Linked DNA regions of Homo sapiens: all the other regions are reported to be linked to region 2. The links are microRNA targets in miRTarBase. Many come from high-throughput screens and were not tested one by one. Region 2 holds a microRNA gene; each other region holds the end of a gene's coding sequence.
Evidence for each region. The annotated mature microRNA hsa-miR-3065-3p reads UCAGCACCAGGAUAUUGUUGGAG and lies in region 2 at 2,365-2,387, opposite strand. An mRNA with a match to its seed (bases 2 to 7 or 8) in the 3' UTR can be bound and repressed. Matches are read on the target gene's strand: a 7mer-m8 pairs with bases 2 to 8, a 7mer-A1 pairs with bases 2 to 7 and ends in A, and an 8mer does both.

Region 1 (3,684 bases), not on the chromosome of region 2:
GAGACGGGGTCCCACTCTCTTGCTCAGGCTGGAGTGCAGTGTCACAATCTTGGCTCACTGCAACCTCCACCTCCCGGGCTCAAGTGATCCTCCCACCTCAGCCTCCTGAATAGCTGGGACTACAGGGGCACACCACCATGCCCAGCTAATTTTTCTGGGGGTGGGGTGGGGACTTTCTATAGAGACAGGGTCTTGCCATGTTGCTCAGACTGGTCTTGAACTCCTGAGCTCAAGCAATCTACCTGCCTTGGCCTCCCAGAGTGCTGGGATTACAGGCATGAGCCAAAGCACCCAGCCCTGAGCTGTATGGTACTTCAAACTGCCAACACGCCAGCCCCGGACACTCTGATTGGTATTCTTTTAATTCATCAGACTCCATGTGCAATAAATGACTGAGTGTTGAAACTGTTCTTTTTTGTTTGCCCAGTCGGTAGATGGCCACTTTTTGTAACTTTTTTTTTCATTCAGGTTTCTATTTTTATTCAACTATAAGCAAACAGCACAATTAATGCAATGTTCAGCAACTCCAGACCAGCTTTTCTTACTCCCGTGAAGAATGATCAGTTTAACAAACACCGATCTAAGGTTTCCTCCCAAGCTGTCAGCGAGCGCTGCTGCCGGTCTAGATGGCCATGTCCCAACAACAGCAGCGCCACTCTCCCTCCTGCTTCTTCCAGGATTGCTCTTTAAAGGGACCAGAGCGACATACTGATGCCTATTGAGGCATCTGAGATGCACCGTGTTGGGGGTTAGCCTCAATGCCAGCCTCTGGTTGTCTAGGTGAGTGACATCACCATAAAAACACATTGTGTACCATTCTGGACTCAGGATCACAAAGGCAGAGGCAACCAATCTTTTTTTTTTTAAAACCTTCCTTAAAGATTCTTTGATGCTTTGCTCTATCACTGTAGACCTGGTTTTTTCCCCCTAGTTTTTTCTTTTTTACATTCTGGGTTGCTATTTTCAGATTAACAATTTGATGACCCCATCACAGTACCAAAATATCCCCCAAAATGAAGTTCAAATTTGATCAAAACATAAATCAGAGTGAGTGAGTAAAATTATAAAGGCCAGGCAGCAGGAAAAGTCACCCTCAACCACCATCTGACTGGTCAGGTCTCACCTGTGCCAAGGGGGGCAGGAAGAGGAGAAACCTATTATACATGCAACACTGAACTGGGGAACATGGCTTGGGGCCTCCAGAACAGTTCAGGTCCCCAAGCTAACCCACTAGTTCCCAGAGAGTTGCTCGTACAGTTTGGGCACATAGTCGTCCCACTCAGCCTGGTAACACGTGCCAGCCACCGGGGCCCCGAGCTCGTACTTTTTACGGAAGGACACCACCTCAAATTTGCCACGGTGGTCTCCAGATCGGTTGCTGAGGATGGGCTCGTCACACTTTAGTGGCCTGTCCTGCTCATAAACCAGCCAGACATAGCGGTGGAGACCTGTGCCCTTGGGAGGCCCCGAGCCCACATAATCGGAGAGGAGTGTGTCACTGCTGATGTCATTGCCCTTCATGTTGACCACCAGGAAATGATGCCATTCTCTGTATTTGGGATCCTTCCTGCTGGGAGCATCAGGGTCTGTCAGGACCAAGGTGTAGAGCTTCCCTGAATCAAGACCATCCCACTAAATGCTGGTGGGTCTATTCTTAACCTGGGTGGGCGTCAGCACTTTGCCCAGCTCGTCCACCACCGCCCGGGCGTAGGTGACATGCAGCAGGTGCTGTGACCGCTCGTCCATTTCTCGCAGGCTCAAGGGCCCGGACCACTTGCTGAGGTCCACCGGCATGGCAAGGCCAAGCAGAGCATGCAGCCGGGAGTGCCGCGGTAGGCCAGGTGCGGGCGGCAACAGCGACATGGAGAGCTCAGCACACTGGCCTGGGAAGGCGCAGACCCCACTTTTTGTAACTTTATAATTACTTAATTTTATTTTTTTAAAGCTTATTTTGGTGTTATTCAGTATATAGTGTTTTACTGAGCTTCTGCAAATGCCATCACAATAATAGTTTTGTTTTCTTGAACAAAAAACCAAAATAAATTTCAAATGTTAAAGCAATGGAATCAATAAATTTATTAATGTTACATTAACACGAACTACAAAGAGACCTTTCGTATGTCTGATACCAAAGACATAACTGAAAAGTCATTTTTCCAAACCTTGAGCTTGCATTCACCTACCTGTCTAACCCTCACATGTGCTAATTAACTGCAAATGCCATTTCTGGGCTTCACACACATTCCGTGGCTTTCCCTTTTCTGATGTGACTTCCCTCCCTTACCCCACACCTCCCTGCACTGTCCCCTGCTGTGCCCTTGGCTGGAATGCCCTGCAGCCTGCTTCAGCCCAGCAAAGTATTCATCTTACCAGTCCATGCCCTGACTCCTGATGTCACCCTTCCCTGCATCACCCTTCCCTGTGTATTTGGTGGATAAGGCTTGATTGAGGCTCAGGTACTGAGTCCCTGCTGGCACATTGAGAACCAGCTGCCACCCCGATGATAAGGAAGACAGACCCGGGACTTCCATATGAATTGGATATGATCATCTGACATGCACCCTACTAACTGATGGATCCTGCTGTTACCCCAAAGCTCCAGAACCACACTGGCCAGACACAGGCATTTCCTGTCCCCTGAAGAGCCACTGAACCCAGCACAAAAGAGATCTAGAGCTCTCCAAACCTATGGAATGGCAACCAAAACCACGCCCAGGTTTTGAGTTAAGCCTCATTAGTCTCCCTTTTCCCTTGACAGTGTAGAACTGTGCAGCGTAGCACTAAATGAATGAGAGCAGAAGCCTCAGGACAGAACTGAACCCACCAGGTTGAGCTGACAACACTGCCAGGGGTTCTATCCACAGATGGAATATTCGCTTTGATCACTGAGTTAGGAGGCATGGGTGAGGGATGCAGAGCGCCGCTCGTCATGAGACATCAAGCTATCCAAGTCAATATCCTATTAGTAGGGATGGCATGTTATAAAAGGCGTAAAGATCTCACCTGCCCCAGCTGGAAGCAGTGATTCCATTGCCCCAGATTCGGAATTGTGATTTAAACTAGGCCTCTCTTCAGGCATCAGAACCAAATTAGAGTGCTTTATACGTGCAAGGAACTAATGCAGAAAGACATTATGGGTAAGTCAAGGGAGATGCCCCAGCCATTGGGCAAATTCCTCTGACTCCTCCCTGATGGAACTAATTCTTTTTCTTCTGTGCCCGGATCCTAGAATCAAGATTCTTAAGGTCTGAGTACAAGTTCCGCTTCAGGATGGCGCTGCTGCACAGCAGGGCACCTTGCAGGGCCCCGACCAGTCCACAGGTGAAGATATCCTGGCCTAGGAGGCAAGAGCAGAGGCCCCTGAGCGTGCACCCAGGCAGGCCCAGGGGAGGGTGGGGCCTTGGTGCTCTTCCCTCCACATGAGGGCCACCCAGAGCTGGCTCCAATCAGACAGGGGCCACAGCCTGCCCAGGCAGCCCTGCTCAGGGGATGGGAGGCTGCAGGGGACAGCAGGGCCTGAGGGCAGGAACAGAGGACGTTGGGCGACAGGGGCCCAGGGTCTCAGGTCCTGACAACATGGGGCAGTGAGTATACCTGTCAGATAGAGGTTGGGGATGGGGCTCTGGGCCCTCAAGGAGGCCATCACACAAGGGTGCAGGCGGCCCAGGTCATGGTCAGCCCCGT
Region 2 (3,565 bases):
GGCTGCATCCCCTTCTCCCTAGGGGGTCCTGGGGTCAGAGGTACCTGGGGAGGGGCCCTGGGAGGGAGAGGAGCAGCCTCTTGCTCATGGCCTTCCCCTGACCTTGGCCTAAACGAGACACCTGGGTCCCTCTTCCTCACTTCAAACCCCCAGAGAGAGAGAGAGAGAGGGCAGCGGGGGACCTTGTGGGGAGAGTAACACGAAAGACTCAGAATATTACAGCCAGAGGGTTGCCGGGAGGGATCCGGAAGCCATACCTCACGCTGCAATGAGTGGACGGGGCACAGGAGGAGAAGTGTCCTGTCCTGGGGGCCGGCGTGGGGCGGGTGGGAGAAGAGTAAGGCCTGGAAGCCGGGGCCGGTGGAGGCGGAGCAGCCGTGGGTGATGCTGTCTGTCCCACAGGTGTTCCTGGGGGAGGTGAACTCTGGCATCAGCAGTGCCCAGGTGGTGGTGAAGGAGCTGCAGGCTAGTGCCAGCGTGCAGGAGCAGATGCAGTTCCTGGAGGAGGTGCAGCCCTACAGGTGGGAGGCCACCGGGCACAAAGGCCTGTGCTGTGCGGCCCCCTCCTCTCCCTCCCCTGCTCGGCCCGACTCCCCCTCCCCACCTCCTCCCAAGTCAGGGGCCGCCTGTCCACTCCCGCAGGGCCCTGAAGCACAGCAACCTGCTCCAGTGCCTGGCCCAGTGCGCCGAGGTGACGCCCTACCTGCTGGTGATGGAGTTCTGCCCACTGGTGAGCTGCTGCCCGGGGGGATGCTGGGGTCTTTGCTGAGCCGGGGCCCTCCCTTGCCCTGCCAGTGTCTGGTGCCACCCCCTCCTTGGGGGCCTCACATCCTCCCTAAAGCCAAGACCCAGGGACCCTGCCCCCACCACCTTCCAGAGGAGGCGATGGGGAGACCTAGCCTCACCAGGGAGGGACTGTGGGGGCTGGGCACAGAACAGGCCTGGGCTGGGGCTCCCTGCACCCCTGGGGAGCTGCCAGCTGCTTGGTCACCTGCTTGTGTGCCCTGTGGTTCAGGAGGAGGCATCCTGGGCCAACTGGGGGGGGGCACTGGCCCACTTGGGCTCCACGGCCTCACTCAGGCTTGCTTTTGCCATGGGGGGCTGGGCCTGGCCACTTCCCCAGGCTGCCTGGAGTTCTGGGCCTGCCCATCAACGCCCCCCGCCCCGGGGACCTGTCCCCCCCTCCCCCTGAGACCTGCCCATCAACGCCCCCCTGCCCCGGGGACCCGTCTCCCCCTCCCCCGAGACCTGCCCCCCACCCCCTTCCACATATGCAGCTCCTGCACTGAGCCGAGGCTGTCTGTGGCTGGGCTGGATCCCCTGCTGGCTTCCCTCGGGACAGGGGCCCTCACACACTGGCGTCTGGACTCCTGACGTTGACCGTCCCGGGGCTGGGCTTTCGGCAGGTCAGGGGCTGCCGGCCAACCCTCGACCACCAGCCCCAGACTCCATCAAGCAGATCCACTTGGGCCCTGTGTTTCTCTCTCTACCACAGGCCAAGGGACTCCTGCTGCCCGGGGCTGGCTGAGGGGCAGTGGAGAGGAAGCCTTCAGTCCAGCCCAGCCCTGGGGGACACGGCCCCCCTCCAGGAACTGCTGGGTGCTGGCCACTGTGCAGGGCACGAGGCTGCTCTGGGCAGCTGCTGTCCCTCAGCTGTGGGTAGGGGTGGAGGAGTTGGGGAGGTAGGTGGGGACCTCCCAGGGTGGCCAGCCCCCAGCCTGCTGGTGACTGCGCCACACCCCCTTTCTGCAGGGGGACCTCAAGGGCTACCTGCGGAGCTGCCGGGTGGCGGAGTCCATGGCTCCCGACCCCCGGACCCTGCAGCGCATGGCCTGTGAGGTGGCCTGTGGCGTCCTGCACCTTCATCGCAACAATTTCGTGCACAGGTGAGGGCGGGCGCGGGCCAGCGGCCGGGAAGCCCTAGGCCAGGCCCCTCCCCTGAAGGAAGGGCATAGGGCGGGTCCTGCCTCAGGGGGCTTGCGAGGACCGGCCAGGTTCATCTCATGCAGCATCAGACAACCACTATGCAGAGGGATTTTATGACGTTTTTGAAAAATTGGGAAGACAATGGTTTGACACCCACTTTGCAGGTTTAGACGAAGAGATGCGTACTGTCAAGCTGGCCTGTTCTCTGTCCCCGAGGCAGTCAGCCAGCACCCTGCAGCCCCGCGCCAACCCCACACTCTGCTAAGCCCTCGCTTTGGGGCTTGAGGGAGACAGACCCTGCTTCGAAGGACCCTGGAGGGAGGGTTCTGTCCTGCTTGGGCCAGGATGCCCAGCCCCTGGGGACCCCGGGGGGACATGCTGGAAGAAGTGGCGAAGGACACGTGGCCCCGTCAGCCCCAGACGCCGCACGGCTGTCCTCTCCAACAATATCCTGGTGCTGAGTGATGACTCAGGCGACTCCAGCATCAGTGATTTTGTTGAAGAGGGCAGCTGCCAGCCTCCCGACCTGCCTGCCGGGCCCCAGCTGCCCTGCCCCCAACCCCAACCCACCCCACTCCACCCCCTAGGCCCAGGACACATGGCCCTGTAGCGATCCCCTGGCACGCAGACATGGGTTTTATGTGGGGAGGGACAGGCTGGGTTGGCCTCTGTCCCCACCCTGAGTCCTGAGCACAGAAGTAATACGGCAGCTGTGGTAATATCTACCCAGTACCCTGTGCCTCCTCACACCCACGTGACCAGCCAGGCAGGGTTCAAAGCCAGCAGCCAAGGCAGGCTGGGTTGGAGGTAGTGCCAGGCGTAACCTGCATTCTTTCCAGACCCTACCCAACCCTGGGGCCAGTGGTGGCTCAAGTGAGAGTGAGCTCCAGCTCTGAGTGGGCATGGCAGGGCTGGACCCTAAAACTGGACTCCGGCAGCCGGCAGGACCCCTGGGACACTCCAGGCCTCAGTTTCCCCATCAATTCCCACCTCCTGGGGAGCCGAGAGTGATAGTGTAGTAGAGCTAGGAGGAGAGGGTCCTGGAGAAGCGTGGACCGGTCCGGGTGGGTTCCGGCAGGTTCTCACCCTCTCTAGGCCCCATTCTCCTCTGCACTGTAACATTTGAGGCCCACGCACACAGTCCCTCCCCAGGTCTCAGGGTTGGGCACAGAGTAGGGCCCTGGGCAGGGATGGGGGGTGGCAGTGTCTCCAACGCCCCTTCCAGCCTGGACTGTGAGCCATCCAAGTGTTGGCAAAGGACCCTGTGCTGGATGCCCCCGCCCGGCACACCCCACTGACCCTCCCCCTGCCCCCACCCGGCACACCCTGCTCACCCTGCTCACCCTGCCCCTGCCCCTGCCCCTGCCTGCAGCGACCTGGCCCTGCGGAACTGCCTGCTCACGGCTGACCTGACGGTGAAGATTGGTGACTATGGCCTGGCTCACTGCAAGTACAGAGTGAGTGGGGTGGGGTGGGCTGGGCTGGGCATGAGGGGCAGGGCCTGCGCCGGCAGGGGTGACCCGTCCCTGTGCCAACAGGAGGACTACTTCGTGACTGCCGACCAGCTGTGGGTGCCTCTGCGCTGGATCGCGCCAGAGCTGGTGGACGAGGTGCATAGCAACCTGCTCGTCGTGGACCA
Region 3 (3,723 bases), not on the chromosome of region 2:
TGTCTCAAAAAAAAAAAGTAAAATTTAAATTATGTTTGGGTTTTGTGAGGTTATAAAGCATTCCTTTTAGACTTATAAAATGAAAGCTTATGTTTACACGTTTCATAGGACTGTTTTTAAAATTTATTTTAATGTTCTTTCTGCTGCTTTCATTTATCTCTTATTTTTGTCTTTTCCCATGTTCTAATCTACCTAAAGTTATAGCTATATTTAATATAGTGTTAATATTAAGTATTGTATTTAGGGAAATAACGGATACATATTGAAATAGGGATCGTATTACCTTATAGTAATCTAAAGAAATAGCAACTCTGCACCTGTGTAGTCTTACCATGTTAAAAGAACCAAATAATAAATCCATAAATATTTTTATAGAGAACATGTGGACCAGCAGTGCAGAGAAGCTGTTTAGGATTCTCAAAATTGTAATATAATTGATGCAGATAATGGAGATCTCATTTCCCTCCTTTGTTTTCCCTAAACAGTATAAAAGAAGCCTGTATTGTTTTGAATTTGAACGTCGGTTCTGCACTACTGCTGAAAGATGTACTGCAGTCAGCTTCAGGGCAGCTTCCTGCCACAGCAGCATTAAATGAAGTTGGAATTTACAAACTGGCTCAACAAGATGTTGAGATTCTACTTAATTTGAGGACAAATTGGCCTAATACTGGAAAATAATGTCTTTCAGAAAAAGGTTTCTTTGGTTTTTGTTTCTAAGAAAGAGGAAGCCAATTGGATTTCAAGTTATATGATGAAATTCTGAATTAATGAAACTGGAAAACTTTATAGAATTACTTATTATCTTGGATTTATGGTGTTATTAAAATGCTGACCATATTTCCTTCATCCTCTTGTTCCTAAGGAAACAAAAACAGAAAACGAAACAATGAAAACTCAATTCTATTTACAAGTATAAATGCTGAGTATGTCTGTTGAAGACGAGCAGAGATATTAAATTATAACCAACTTTCAATTTCCTGTGCTAATTAAGGGAAATTCTGTTGTGGATAATCAAACATAGCCAATAAATTTTTTTAAAACTCCCTTTGAATGCATATTTGTAATTGAGGCACCTGTATCTAGTTTGGGAATTAACTGTATTTCCATGAGGAAACTGGCAGGGCACAGTGTCTCATGCCTGTAATCCCAGCACTTTGGGAGGCTGAGGTAGGAGGATTGCTTGAGGCAGGAGTGCGAAAACATCCTGGCCAACATGTCAAGACCCTGATGCATGCCTGTAGTTCTAGCTACTTGGGAGGCTGAGGTGGGAGGCTAGCTTGAGCCCAGGAGGTCAAGACTACAGTGAGCTCTGATTGTGACACGGCACAGCAGCCTGGGCAAGCGAACAAGACCCTGTCTCTAAAGAACAAAACAAAACACATTGTGAGATGGTGAATAAGATAGGATTGTTCTTCATTTCTCACAAATGCCCTTCTATTTTAAATGCTTCCTAGTTTCATTCTGTGTGACAGTGGGCAACCCTTTCTTTCTGGATGAAACATTTCAGGCCATGGCACTCTGACTCAAACATTCCCATGTGGTAGGGAATGTAATTAAACATTTTTATTATTTATGTAACTTATGAGACAAAAGTCTCAAAAGTTTATTTTTTCTTGTAACTTTTCCTTGTCCTTGGGGTATATTCAATAATAGTTACTTGACTAATAAAATCTCAGAGTAAAACTCTTTAAAAAATTGAGCTAGATTCCCTGGAAACTTTCCACAACTATTAAATTTTATTCCAATGGTTTTTCTCTGACTTAGCAGTGGGTTAGTACTTTTAATCCTGTAATATCTCAAAATCTAAAATTATCAGACTAACATGCAGCCTATGCTTCTGATAAACATTTACTTTGTGATAATTTTGAGGAAATATTTTGAGATAGATTCTATTAGTATGTATTTTATAGAGAGAGTTTCCAGCTAGTGTGTTGAGCTCAAAATGTTTCTGTTTGTTAGTTGTCCTAGCATATTGGTGCTTCTTCACCTCATCCTTTGAGAATTGCTGGGGCTTCCTATTTAGAATGGAGCTGGCTGGGCACAGCCCATTACATGCCTGTAATCCCAGCACTTTGAGAGGCCGAGGCAGTGGATCACTTGAGATCAGGAGTTTGAGACCAGCCTGGCCAACATGATGAAACCCTGACTCTACTAAAAATACAAAAAAATTATCTGGATGTGGTGATGCGCATCTGTAAGCCCAGCTACTGGGAAGCTGAGGCAGGAGAATCGCTTGAACCCGGGAGGTGGAGGTTGCAGTGAGCCGACATATTGCCACTGCACTCCAGCCTGGGCAACAGAGCAAGACTCCATCTCAGGGAAAAAAAAAAAAAAAAAAAGAATGGAGCTGCCTCTGGAACTTCCTCTCTAACCCCAGCATTTTCCCTTCCTATTCCCAAGTTTAGGGACTTTACCGTCAGCCTTACCTGTCCTCACTTTCCAGTCAGCTGAAAGTTTCAAGGGAACAAAATATTTCTTTCAAAAGATAGGAACCTGTTTTAAAGGTATTAATTGTGCTTCAAAATCATGCCACCTTATTAAAATATTTGTCACTTAAAAATAAACTTACACTTCCTCCTTGAATTTATCCAAAGTTATTTTATGTCCATCATCTTGTAAATCTTCATCTTCAGTGCATAGACCCAGGGTTTTTAGGGCTGTAAAATAATGAGAAGAAATGAAGTGAGAATTTTACAAAGTGAGAAGTATTTTCTGCTAGAAAAAACTGTGGAATGACCACAAACTATTACCTCAATTTGTAGAATGTACTGACCTTCTTTATACTGCACAAATGATATGGTGCCTCTGCCTGAGGAGTCCATCATCTCAAACATAGCCACAATGTTAGAGTTATCCATAAAGAAAGGAAACGCCACGCCTGTTACTTTTGCAATTCTCAGTCGTTCCAATAGAGATATTAAATATTCTTTTGGTTTTTCTGCAAAAGAATAGTTCCAGCTCTTTCTGATACGAAATTAAAATATGTCGCAAATAGAAGTAGTCATTTAACAATTATTAAACAGCTATAGCAAAGGCACTGTACTAGGCGCTGGGGACACAGGCCTTAGTTTTCATAAACAGTCCAGCAAGAAGGTAAGACATTGAACACTTAAATAATTACATATACAAATGCCCTATCTCAGATGATAGAATAGAAAACTATAGAGACTGGACCTGGGCATTTTTTAGAAAAACTCCCCAAGTGACTATAAGTTGCAGACAGGGTTGAAAACCAAAAACATAGAGGGAACAGCATAATACAGGGAAGAAGTTGGCAACCTAAATAATTGATAAGATATAAATAATAGGCTGGGCATGGTGGTTCATGCCTGTAATCTCAGCACTTTGGGAGGCCGAGGAGGGCAGATCACCTGAGGTTGGGAGTTTGAGACCAGCCTGACCAACATGGAGAAATCCCATCTCTAGTAAAGTTAGCCAGGCGTGGTGGTGCATGCCTGTAATCCCAGCTACTCGGGAGGCTGAGGCAGGAGAATCGCTTGAACCCGGGAGGCAGAGGTTGCAGTGAGCCAAGATCACGCCACTGCACTCCAGCCTGGGCAACAGAGCAAGACTCTCTCAAAAAAAAAAAAAAAAAAAAAAAAAAAAAATATATATATATATATATATATATATATACACACACACACACATACATATACACATACACACACACATATATATAAATATAATAAAAACAAAGACTGATAAATATGGTCCTCCAGG
Region 4 (3,000 bases), not on the chromosome of region 2:
TAAAGAAATGCTCTACTGAGGGCCGCTGCTAAGACCAGCAGTCCACTTATGTTATCGAGAAGTAGGAGACGGTGATTTCATTCTTTAAATGACACATGAGTTCAGGGAATGAGCTGCAGCAGGCTCAGGGCTGTGTGGGGAGAAAAGTCAGAGAAAGCACTGCAGACGCCTGTAAAGAAAATGTTTTATTTAAAGTGTTAAATACCATCACCAGAATGAATTTGATTTACATTAGTTGGTGTTCATTACAGGACTAATCTGCCCTTTTTTCCCAACTGGAATTCCCTTTACTTTTCAAACATACTATGTACAGGGCAACAACGGTCACTGGCATAGTGCTAGTTACATGACTAAACCACAAGTCGAGGTGCAGATGTGAAAATTAAAAAAAAACACCAACTTTTAAATAAATACTGCATAATGACAAGTATGTACAAATATTCCGTAGTCACGTCCTTCTTATTAAAATTAGAAATAATTTGTATAGGAATATGCACAAAAGATTATGTGACTGCATCTTAGTATCAGGAAAATCATAAACCTTTATTCTAAGGGATAGTATAGACACTATAGGTCTATTAAATCAATTGTTGCTGGTACACAGGTGTCTAAATTATTTTAATAAAGTTTTATTCGTTCTTTTAACAACTTTACCTGGGTCCATCAGAATGTCAAGACACAGTCTTGGTGTATTTCATATTGCACCACATAAAAAGAAGGCATTTTTAGTGATACTCATTTTAACTTTTGCACCGTATCAAGCATGATAGTTTTTAATGGTCAGCACTGAACTAAAAAAAATATTTGTGCATGGCCTTAATTTAAACAAATGAGATGTATGTGGATTTCAAAAATTAATGCAAAAAATTAAAATCAAGCTATAATAATGTGTTATCAAAATGTACATAAAGAACCATGGGTGGTTTATTACAATAACCAGTGACTTTTCCTCTAAATAGGGGAACTTAGGAGAAATTTGACCTTGCAGCTCCACCCAATGGTAATAACCGTCTGTAAAACCAAAGGCAGGGGTTTTGACTTTAGGAGATTTTCACATAGACTTTTGGTGATGGCATCAAATAACTATTAATAGGCATAATGACTTTCTTTGAGTCACCTAAAAACTGGAGCTTTAAAATTGTTGCAAATTTATGTTTACTATATTTCTTTAGAAATATAATTTGTGAAAAATTGAATTTTACTACAGAAAAATGAATTAATAAACAGCCCTGTGTTTCAGGGTTCCCAATTTTTAGCAGTGCTTCTATTCACATAGTAAATGGAAACTGGCTAAAGAAATTGCTTTAAATGATTAAAAAACAAACAAAACCTAAGACCTTCTACAAATAATACTTTAACCCCTGTATGAATAATGCTGGTGCTAAAAACAAATTTATTGGACATCACAATGGCAACATGATTTTAGAATTTTCCTGTAAACTGAATTTTAAAGGTGAAAAAATTACCATGCACTGTACAATAAACTGCAAAAGTTCAAATATCTTCTTCGTCAAATACATGCTGACTTACTTTAATGTACTCCCAAGTCATGTTGCAAAATCCTTTTCAACATGCTTGAAATAAAGAAAGCTCTTAAAGTTAATTTTCCCTTGAGAAATTCGCAAATTCAGAGGCATCTACAGCTCTGAATCAAACATGGGGTATGAGAGAGGATCAGATCAAAACTTGTAATTTTTTAGTATAAGGTTCACTCTGGCAGGGAGAAAGAAAAGTTTAAAAGAGGGAGAAGAGGTAAAGTGAGAGAAGGAGAAAGATGTGAAAAATTTGCACATATTGAACTTCATAAGATTTGTATATTTAACATGGAAATAAATTGAATATATTATACTTATTTGTCACATAAAGAGAATTTTAAGTATCTTCTAGAAAGTATTTCCATTTGTAATGTCTGCCAAAACACAGACTATGATTAAAGAATAAACATGGTGTATCTTTGTATCACCCTGTTGCATTCTCTCTCCTTTTTAAAACCATGCACTAGTGAAATTTATTTTTAAAAATAATATAAATTGTTGAAAATGGCTGATTTTTATTCTTTTTTTTTTTTTTGCAAGTTGCAGCCCCAAGAAAATAATTTAAGTATTCAGCTAATCTGTGTCCATGCAAAAAAAGTTTCTTTAATTTCATTCAGTACAGTGTAGCCACAGAATTTTGTTTTTCAGAGTCCAACACATCTTAGCATTAGTAATTGACGTGCCCATGGAGCTACAAAGTCTGCCACTCTTCCTGCTGGACTGACTGCTCTGATTCCCGCCCAGAGGAGGGCTGATGATTGTTCCTGACCACTTCTTTGGTCTCCTGCTTTTCACCTGATGCTTCCTAGGATTACACTCCTCACCTGTAACACCGCTTCATGGCTGTATAGCTCCATTTCTGTGGCATATCAGGGCTTTGGGGTTAGATAAATGAAGAAAAAGGAATGATAAAAATATAAAGGTGCCATTGAAAAGGGCTTCTGTTGCATGAAACTGACTGATTCTTTGAGATTAATCCATGGCTTCAGATTGGACCAGAACTCGAGTGTCATTGAATTCCAAATCTGATAGTTCTTCACAGCTCTGCTCTTTCACCTGAGGGCCTTCTTTAGGGCACAATGTGTGCAACTTCCTCTGAGAACACAGGATTGCTTTGTATCCCTAGAAACAGGCTCAGAAGACACAACATTAAGCATGCAGTGTTACCAGGGTTTGCAACCTGTGATTTTTTTTTTTTTTTTTGTAACGCTGGTTGCTGTGACAACAATTTTTTTACAGCTGCTATGAACGAGAGTAAGAAGGTCCAGTTGAACTTTCCAGAGATGATTGGGAAGCTCTTCTTGTCAGAGGGGCCAAGGTTGGATCTACTAGGGAGGAAGGTGGGAAAAGTTTGAACCATCCGATCACCATATTGGATAGCTCTAGTTCATCTAAAAGTATCTGGGCCACTCCCATAAAAGATTTGTGATCCATGCGGCCATAATCTCCCCAGACGATGATCTGT

Region 1: miRTarBase lists RETSAT as a target of hsa-miR-3065-3p. The part of its 3' UTR that is shown has no 7-base or 8-base seed match.
Region 3: the mRNA of RINT1 is a reported target of hsa-miR-3065-3p. The part of its 3' UTR that is shown has no 7-base or 8-base seed match.
Region 4: the mRNA of RIMS2 is a reported target of hsa-miR-3065-3p. Seed matches in the 3' UTR shown: 7mer-A1 at 781-787.

Annotation. Positions count from the first base shown.
Region 1 is chr2:85,340,045-85,343,728 of GRCh38, forward strand. RETSAT (retinol saturase) reads right to left here. Exons shown (of 11, transcript NM_017750.4): 10 at 3,595-3,684; 11 at 1,911-3,337. The coding sequence ends at 3,198. It also overlaps the pseudogene PEBP1P2. Among named protein-coding and RNA genes, the nearest start is that of RETSAT, 13 kb to the right of the region's middle.
Region 2 is chr17:81,124,748-81,128,312 of GRCh38, reverse strand. It overlaps MIR3065 (microRNA 3065), which reads right to left and starts at 2,436; the gene lies at 2,358-2,436. AATK (apoptosis associated tyrosine kinase) reads left to right here. Exons shown (of 14, transcript NM_001080395.3): 5 at 403-521; 6 at 643-730; 7 at 1,753-1,886; 8 at 3,299-3,383; 9 at 3,465-3,565. It overlaps MIR657 (microRNA 657), which reads left to right and starts at 2,940; the gene lies at 2,940-3,037. It overlaps MIR338 (microRNA 338), which reads left to right and starts at 2,364; the gene lies at 2,364-2,430.
Region 3 is chr7:105,566,634-105,570,356 of GRCh38, forward strand. RINT1 (RAD50 interactor 1) reads left to right here. Exons shown (of 15, transcript NM_021930.6): 15 at 486-1,044. The coding sequence ends at 678. It overlaps EFCAB10 (EF-hand calcium binding domain 10), which reads right to left. Exons shown (of 5, transcript NM_001355526.2): 2 at 2,774-2,938; 3 at 2,570-2,657; 4 at 834-857. Among named protein-coding and RNA genes, the nearest start is that of EFCAB10-AS1, 2.6 kb to the right of the region's middle.
Region 4 is chr8:104,251,598-104,254,597 of GRCh38, reverse strand. RIMS2 (regulating synaptic membrane exocytosis 2) reads right to left here. Exons shown (of 30, transcript NM_001348484.3): 30 at 168-2,996. The coding sequence ends at 2,778. Among named protein-coding and RNA genes, the nearest start is that of DCSTAMP, 87 kb to the left of the region's middle.